Linked DNA regions of Homo sapiens. The protein of the gene in region 1 interacts with the protein of each later gene in a biochemical or structural test. Each region holds a gene or a part of one and is shown on either strand. Other genes may lie near its edges.

What was found.
Region 2: the proteins of MAP2K2 (region 1) and LMO7 interact in a test that uses a peptide from one of them, tested with the Homo sapiens proteins (one large-scale study listed by IntAct).

The regions. Positions count from the first base shown.
Region 1 is NC_000019.10:4,093,123-4,096,622, forward strand, and holds part of MAP2K2 (dual specificity mitogen-activated protein kinase kinase 2), read right to left. Parts: intron 2,328-3,500; coding exon 2,266-2,327; intron 1,377-2,265; coding exon 1,331-1,376; intron 1-1,330. UniProt on the Homo sapiens protein: Catalyzes the concomitant phosphorylation of a threonine and a tyrosine residue in a Thr-Glu-Tyr sequence located in MAP kinases. Activates the ERK1 and ERK2 MAP kinases.
Region 2 is NC_000013.11:75,634,889-75,639,129, reverse strand, and holds the start of LMO7 (LIM domain only protein 7), read right to left. Parts: upstream 2,801-4,241; 5' UTR 2,473-2,800; coding exon 2,404-2,472; intron 1-2,403.

The DNA of each region.
Region 1 (3,500 bases):
CAGGAGAATTCCCTGAACCTGGGAGGCGGAGGTTGCAGTGAGCCGAGATCGTACCACTGCACTCCAACCTGGGTGACAAGAGTGAGACTTCATCTTTGCGGGGAAAAACAAAACCCACACACAAAAACTAGCTGGGCTTGGTGGCACACATCGGTAGCCCCAGCTGCTCAGGAGGCTGAGTGGGAGGATCACTTGAGCACGGGAGTTGGGGCTACAGTGAGCTACAATCGCACCACTGCATTCCAGCCTGGGGGACAGAGCAAGGCTGTATCTCAAAAATTTTTTTGACCAGGTGCGGTGGCTCACATCTGTAATCTCTGCACTTTGGGAGGCTGAGGCAGGTGGATCACCTGAGGTCAGGAGTTTGAGGCCAGCCTGGACAACATGGTGAAAGCCTGTTTCTACTAAAAATACAAAAATTAGCCGGGTGTGGTGGCGGGTGCCTGTAATCGTAGCTACCTGGGAGGCTGACTGGAGAATTGTGTGAGCCTGGGAGGCTGAGACTGCAGTGAGCTGAGATTGCTTCACTGCACTCCAGTCTGGGCGACAGAGTGAGACTCTGTCCGACTCTCAAGAAAAAAACAAAACTGAAAGCCACATTCCAGTATTAGAAGGCACCCGGTTGGGTGTCTGTAGCTGGCATCTCTTCTTTTCTTACAGGCACAGAAAGTAACGGGCTGTCTAGGGGGGTGGCATCTCCAATCCGCCAATCAGCTGTCGAGGGGTTTGAAGGTCGCTGACGGTGGCTGTGGTATGGGAAAGCACTCGGGATGCAGGCTGGGCTGAGGGCAGGAGGATGATGCCCGGGGCCCTCCTCTGAGGGTGTAGTCCCCGCTGGGGAGGCGAGTTTTGGTGAACAGCTGGGCTTCCGAGGATATCAGAGGATGGGGGTTTAAGGGGACACCGAAGTACGCACGGCCTCGGGGGACCTGCTTGCCAGTGTGCAGAACAGGGATGGTCACCCTCTAGTTTGCAGGGAAAGGAGCCTGGGGGGCTGAGAGCTGCCTCCAGCCTCTCATGAGGGCAAAGAAGCCCGGGGTCTCATCCTGTGGGTGCGGGACCAGCACCAGGCAGGAGCGGCGGAGCTCAGAGCCCAGAGCTGTTCCCACGCACACACCCTCTGCTCCCCGCAGCCAGCCCAGGATGGCTTCTCTCATGGATGAGAGAGACCCACAGAGGGTCCTCGGCGTGGCCTGGCACACCCGGCCTGCCCACATCCTGGTCGCAGGTGCTGGCTCCCCGGGCAGGGCCAGGCCCAGCAGCCTTATTTCCTGGGGCCTGGGTGGCAGCCTGCACCCTCCCGGTCCCAGAACCCGCTGGCATCACTCACTGTGAGCATCTTCAGGTCCGCCCGCTCCGCTGGGTTCTTGATGAGGCTGGGGGTTCCAAGAGGCAGGACCGGGAGGCGGTGGAGGAGACAAGACAGGGCAGTCAGCTGGTGGCCCCGGGGCACCCGCGTGTGGGCCGTGGTCGGAGGGGGCCTGGATCTCTCCGACCAGAGAGAGTGGCACAGAGTGGCTGCTCTGTTCTGCCTCCTGGCAGAGGACGAGGGATCCACCTCTGCACTTTGGTGCCAGGGGCAGGACACCCCCCAGCGGGAGGGTGAGAGGGAAAGAGGGTGGGAAACCCCGCCTGGTGGGTCAGAAGCCTGGACGCAACCCCAGCTAACTGTCTAATAAAACCCCAGGCCCGGGGCAACATCGCCGGAGCGCACGCCAAGGGCCCGGGGCAACTCCGGCACCAGGAGTGCGGTGCCGTTCCACGGCGTCCCGAGCTCACACACATGGACCGGCCCTGTGGGCAGCGGGGTGTCCGCAGCTCCTTCCCCGTGGTCTGCGGCACATGCCTGTGAAGCCCACGCCACAGGTGCTGCTGGGTGCTTGGGGGCAGGAGAATGGAGTGGGGCTGGCGACCCTCCCAGAACCTGCGGGCGGATCCCGGGGAGCCCACAGTCAGCACACCAGGGGTCCGGGGACCAGACAGAGGCTTCTCCTGCTGCAGACAGTGAGCTGGGGACACCGTCATGTGCACAGGGCCTGCAATCCTGCTTCACCCCTGGGCTCACGGACAGGATGGCATGGCAGCCGGGAGCTGCAGCCCCACAGCTCTGGGAAAAGGAATCTGGCTTCCCGTTGGGCTGAGTCCTGCCTAACGCTGCACTGGGATTCTGGATGGGCAGGCTGGGCCACGGGCCCCACCCAGGACCCGGAAGGAGTGGCACATCTGGGTCCCGGCCAGGGGTGTGGGCAGCCCGGCTCCACCTACCATTTATTGACAAACTCCTGGAAGTCGGGGGTGAACACACCGTTGGGCAGCTTAGGAGGTGGCTGTGGAGGAGAACAGAGGGTGGGGTCAGCCCTGGGCATCGTCAGGGACCCTCGGCTGCAGCCCTCTCTACCCCTCACTGTCCTGTCCGGTCACCCACCCTGCAGGCCTGGCCGACACCACATGCCAACTGGGCTGCACCCTGTCAGAGGTGGCCTTCTCCCGAAAGCTCTCGTTTGAGAGTCACGGCTGCTTAGAGGGAAAGAGTGGGGTGCGTCCCCCTTTTATCAACAGGACAACCTCTCGAGTGTCGTCACTTGCTTCCTTCCCCAGTGTCACTGGCTGAAGGATGAGCTTTGGGACTGGGCCCCACAGAGGGACATCTGGATCCAAAGTTATTTTGTTTTGAGACAGTCTCGCTCTGTTGCCCAGGCTGGAGTGCAATGGCGTGATCTTGGCTCACTGCAGCCTCCACCTCCGGGGTTCAAGGGATTCTCCAGCCTCAGCCTCCTGAGTAGCTGGGATGACAGGTGCCCACCACTGCGCCTGGCTAATTTTTATATTTTTAGTAGAGACGGTATTTCACCAGGTTGGCCAGGCTGGTCTCGAACTCCTGACCTCAGGTGATCCACCCACTGTGGCCTCCCAAAGTGCTGGAATTACACACCTGAGCCACCGTGCCCGGCCAAACTGGGTCCACAGTTTTAAGCCCAAGCACTGGGGAGCCTGGCCTGACACACGTCCCCGGAGCGGGAGTGGCCGTGTAAGCGGTGCCAGCAGGGCAGGGGCAGGCCTTTCCCGCGCAGGGGCAGGGGCGGGAAGAGGCGGGGGAGAGGTCGGGGGATGTGCTCACTGGGCATGGGTGTGGCTGCTAGGTGCAGGGAGAGCTGGGTCACCAGGGCCACCCCACCTGGCTCCGTCATCATCTCGCCACCCAACCCCAGGCCTAGCCCAGTCTGCAGGCAGCTCAAATGCCCGTTTCTCTGCCCCAGCTCCAAAGGGCCACCAAAGACACAGAAACCCACAGAAGGCCCAGGGAGGTGGCCCGGCCTGGTCACGTGGCCAACAGGACCTTGGGGTGCAGTCCTGTGCCTCCCTGACAGCTGCAGGCCTGGAAGGAGGCCGCGTCCCTCCTTGTGCCTTGTTTTACTCATCTGGGCGGTGGAAACCCTCATACTGTGGCTCACTGGGTTGTTATGGGGACTGACGGAGCAGGAGCCACCCCGGGACCTACA
Region 2 (4,241 bases), on another chromosome or scaffold:
ATGCTGACATGGAGTCCAGTCATCATTCAAAACTTTACAAGGTTATTGGAGTTGACTTTGGGGTATTCAAAGCTGCAGTTGCGAATATATATGTAATACAGATAGAACATATATTATAATACATATGTATATATGTACATACATATACAATATATACACTTAAAAACCCTCCTATATTTCAGTAATGTGTAAAGGAATAGGGCAAAATGTAGCAAGACTATCAGCAAGCAGGGGAAAGAATACTTTACAAATACACATTGGAATCAACCTTTTATCTTCAGATTAGGGGTTCTTAAAGAGGTTGTGATGATGACAGAGTCATTCATCCTGCTTCTTTTGGCAAGAACAATATTTTAAAATATGTGCTTTGGTGGCAAAGGCAAAGCTGACAAGAGAGATAGATGTGGACACTGGAGAAACAAAATAGCCCTAACAGTGAGCACACTGTGGTCATTTCAAATGCCCAGAGTATACTAAAAGTATCTGAACATGTAAATTACTCATATATACACAATGAAGGCAAACATACTGCCTTGTTCCAAGTGGGATGAAAAAAAATTTTAATTTCATTAACTATATTAAAAGGATATGACAGTACCTTTAGGAAGATCCAGCTCTCTGCTAACGATGAACAAAATACATTATAGAGGTGCCAAATCATTGCTGATAAACACCTTTACATAGACTGCGATGAGAGTGAAAACAGACCACATGTAATATGCGCAATGATATCTTTTATCACAATACACTTTCCCCCCATTCATTACATACAAATTTCTTGGAGAAAACCTACATAATTATGAGCAAGCAGGGACAAAAAAGGAATTCATCGTTTTCCAAAATGTGCATACTAAAAAAAAAGGGAAGGGTGTGGAATCATTCCTATTCATGTTTCCTGAAGCAAATACAAAGCACGCAGATGCAAACTCCACACAGAAGCCATGTATGACCAAAACATGTCCCCACGTCTCCCCTTCTCCCTCCTTCAATCCCCAACACTCAAACACAAAATGGCAAGTTTGTTTTCTAAAATTATGCAGAACACACACTGCTAATGGAAAATTACAGTTGGAAGTCTTGGCTTTTCAAAGTTTATGAATGAGGGAAGTTATTTCTCTTAACTATATTGCTGGAATTTTTCCACTCTCATTTCAATTCAAAATACAGCGTTTATTCTTCTCTCAACTTCCCATGCCCCTCCCTTCACATCTTTCTAAGTCACCTTCAGACCAGCTCAAAGTTTCAATCTAAAAAGACACTAAAAGCTCATTCCTTAGACCTCCCTACTGTCCCGTGGTTAATGCTACTCACATTTCACATTCCTTTATTTAGCGTAAGAAATGTAATTTATTCTTTCTTTCCACACACATACATGTATTTCTTTAAGGAAAAATACATTATTTTCAAGTATCGTTCGCTTTGGAATTCTTAAACATGTAGTTTTTTCCGTGGAATAATCTTTAAGCCTAATTCGAAGTTTTAAATATGTTAACTAAACCAGCACGTGGCATCAATAACTCCTAAATGACTGCAGGGCTTGTGCACGCCTCAATTTTCAGCAGTTGTTCCTGATTCACATCTGCTTGGAAGACTTTTGCCTCGTTTTAAAAGTCATCTTTTGCGTCCAGTGGAATAACGGCTAGAAGTCCTGATGTTAACCTTCTACAGATAAATGTAGCCCCAAGGCGTTAATGAAGAGACCCGCTCTTTTTCAGGGTGAAAGAAGGGAATGGAAGATCTTGTCTGTGAGGCACAGCTGGGAGGGTAACAGCTCTTCAGCGAATGATCCTAGGATCTCAGTCTCATCAAAGCCGAAAATGAAAAAGCACATGCCCCGGCCCCTACCCCCTGGGCTTGGATGCGGCCCCAGAGAAATCATCCTTCCAGGTGGGCCTTCGGTGTGTTACCTCCTCCACCTGCCCTCCCACCCACCCTTCTTTTCCGCTCCCCCCCTCCACACTGAATACACTGGCTTCTCAGGTATAAGGTGAGCATCCCCACTTCTAGGCACCCCGAGGGAATGCACCCGAGAGCCCTGGCCCAGCTCTGCACCGCGCGCTCTGGGCTGTGCCCCGCAGAGACGCCCCGGGCGAGCCAGGGCGGACTGCGCTGCTCCTCCGGGACGCGCGATGCCGGCAGGCGAACGCCCACCTCTGCCCTAGGAAGCCAGTGACACCGTCGGGGGGCGGGGGTTAGGGCAGCGCCAATCTAAGCGGGACATAAGATGCAGGAGCGGCAGAACCCGCAGAGTCCCCAAAAGTGCACAAGCAAACCAGCTTGTTCACGTCGGCTGGGTCGCCGAAGGAGGCTAAAGTGCAGAGTGACTGGGGCTGCAGTCACCTCGCGACGACCGCCCCGAGGCAGTCAACACCTGCGGAAGGGAAAGCAGTGAAAGGCACTCACCTCCACCCATCTCTGAGCCTCAGCGAACGCCACGGAGCAGTTGGCCTCTGCCTCCTCCAGCCCTTCCATGGCTAGGACAAGGGAGGGAGAGAGAGACTCGGGATGCGTGGAGGGGAGGGGTTGTCCCCGCGCGTCTGGGCCCCACGGGCGGGGAGGGCACGCGGGCCTCCCACAACTCCGGCTTCCGCTCCGGCTGCGAAGGCGCCGGGGCTCTAGTTCCCTTTGTTGCGCTCTGCAGTTCGTTAAGGTCTCGAACCTACACGAACGTGAAGACCTGGCTTTCTCTAAACTCCTGAAAGCGACCCAAGGCCCGCGGGGACCCGGGCAGTCAGGCAGGACGCGGGAAGCGAAGCGGGTGCCCAGCGGCAGCGCGCGGCACCAGCCCCGACGACAGTTTGGACTTCAAAAGTCGCAGCGCCGCCGCCGTCCTCCCCGCGGTGGCCCCGCCCCGGCCCACCCCACCGCCCTCCCGGGGCCCGCCGAGTCGCCGCTTCCGTCTGCCCCTCCCTTGGCTCCCCGGGCTCCCGGCCGCGGCCGCCTCTGTGGTCAGACTGTCTGGCCCGGGAGATGCCACAGTCCGCCAGGGGCCGCGGCCCGGGCCCCGCTGGGGTTCCCGCACAGCCCGCGGCTCCGCCCCGAGAGGATGCGCCCCCGCGCCCGCATCCTTCCCGCACCCGCCCGCCTGGCCCCTGCCCTCTCCCGGGCCCCTGAGAGCGGCGCCCCTCCCGGCTCGCGGCCGCCCGGCCCGCTTGACATACCAGAAATAGCTGCACACAATTGTACCTTTCCCGGCCAAGAAACCTCCCCCGCTGGGGAGCGCGGCCCGCCGCCCTCACCTGAGCCCCGGCCAGCTGAGCCCGCTACCCGCTCTCCCGCCGCGATCCGGCCCAGCCGCCAGGTGAGCGCCGTCCCCTCCCACGCTCCCCGCCCCCTGCGGCGGCCGGGCCCTCCCGGCGGCAGAGGAGGGTCGTGGCCTTGGCACGTGCTGCCGCTTCCCCCCGGCGGAGTTCGGCCCCGCTCCGCCCGGCTTCCAGGTGGGTGCGGTGGAAGGAGGGTCCCTGCCCCTCCACCCCGGCTCGCGGCTGAGGGTTCGAGCAAGCTGGAGGGTTCCTTGCATTCCCCACTTCCCGCCCGCTCAGCCCAGTTTAGGCCGTTTGATGATCGCCCTCGCGGTGAGCGTCAAAATTCCCACCCTTCGTGGTTTGAGGACACTCAGGGGACAGCGAGGTGGCAGGTTATGCGGTATCCGCCGCGGCCCTGGGTAGGTGTGCAGGGCCGGGGGGTTGGGGGCGGGGCGGGAGGCACACGGGTCGGCTTGCGCGGGTCTTTTTCACACCAGTGCTCAAATCAGGTCTCCACAAAGGAGCCTACTCATCTGTCTGAGCTCCCTGGTCCCTCACTCCACGCTCCTGAGGCACTATCCAGGCCACAGGTTGATGGCTTCATCTTTGGCGGAAGACAAAGACCGGTTCTTACTCTGCTGAAACGAAAGCAAACTCTTGTTCTTATTTTTCTGGTTGTTTTTATGAAGAAAAACGTCAGATACAGAGCAGAGACTAGTAGAATACTATCTAAAACCTAGCGTCTGTATTTAACAACTGTTTGCCTTTTGCCTTATGTATCACCTTTTCTGCTGGAGGGTTTTATTTTTTAATTTTTTAAATTGTATTTACTTTCTGTTTGTTTTTGTTTTGTTTTGTTTTGTTTTGTTTTGTTTTGTTTTGAGATGGAGTCTCACTGTTGCCGAGGCTGGAGTGCAGTAGCACCGTGTCGGCTCACTGCAACCTCCGTCTCCTGGGTTCAAGCAATTCTCTTGCCTTAGCCTCTCGAGCAGCTGG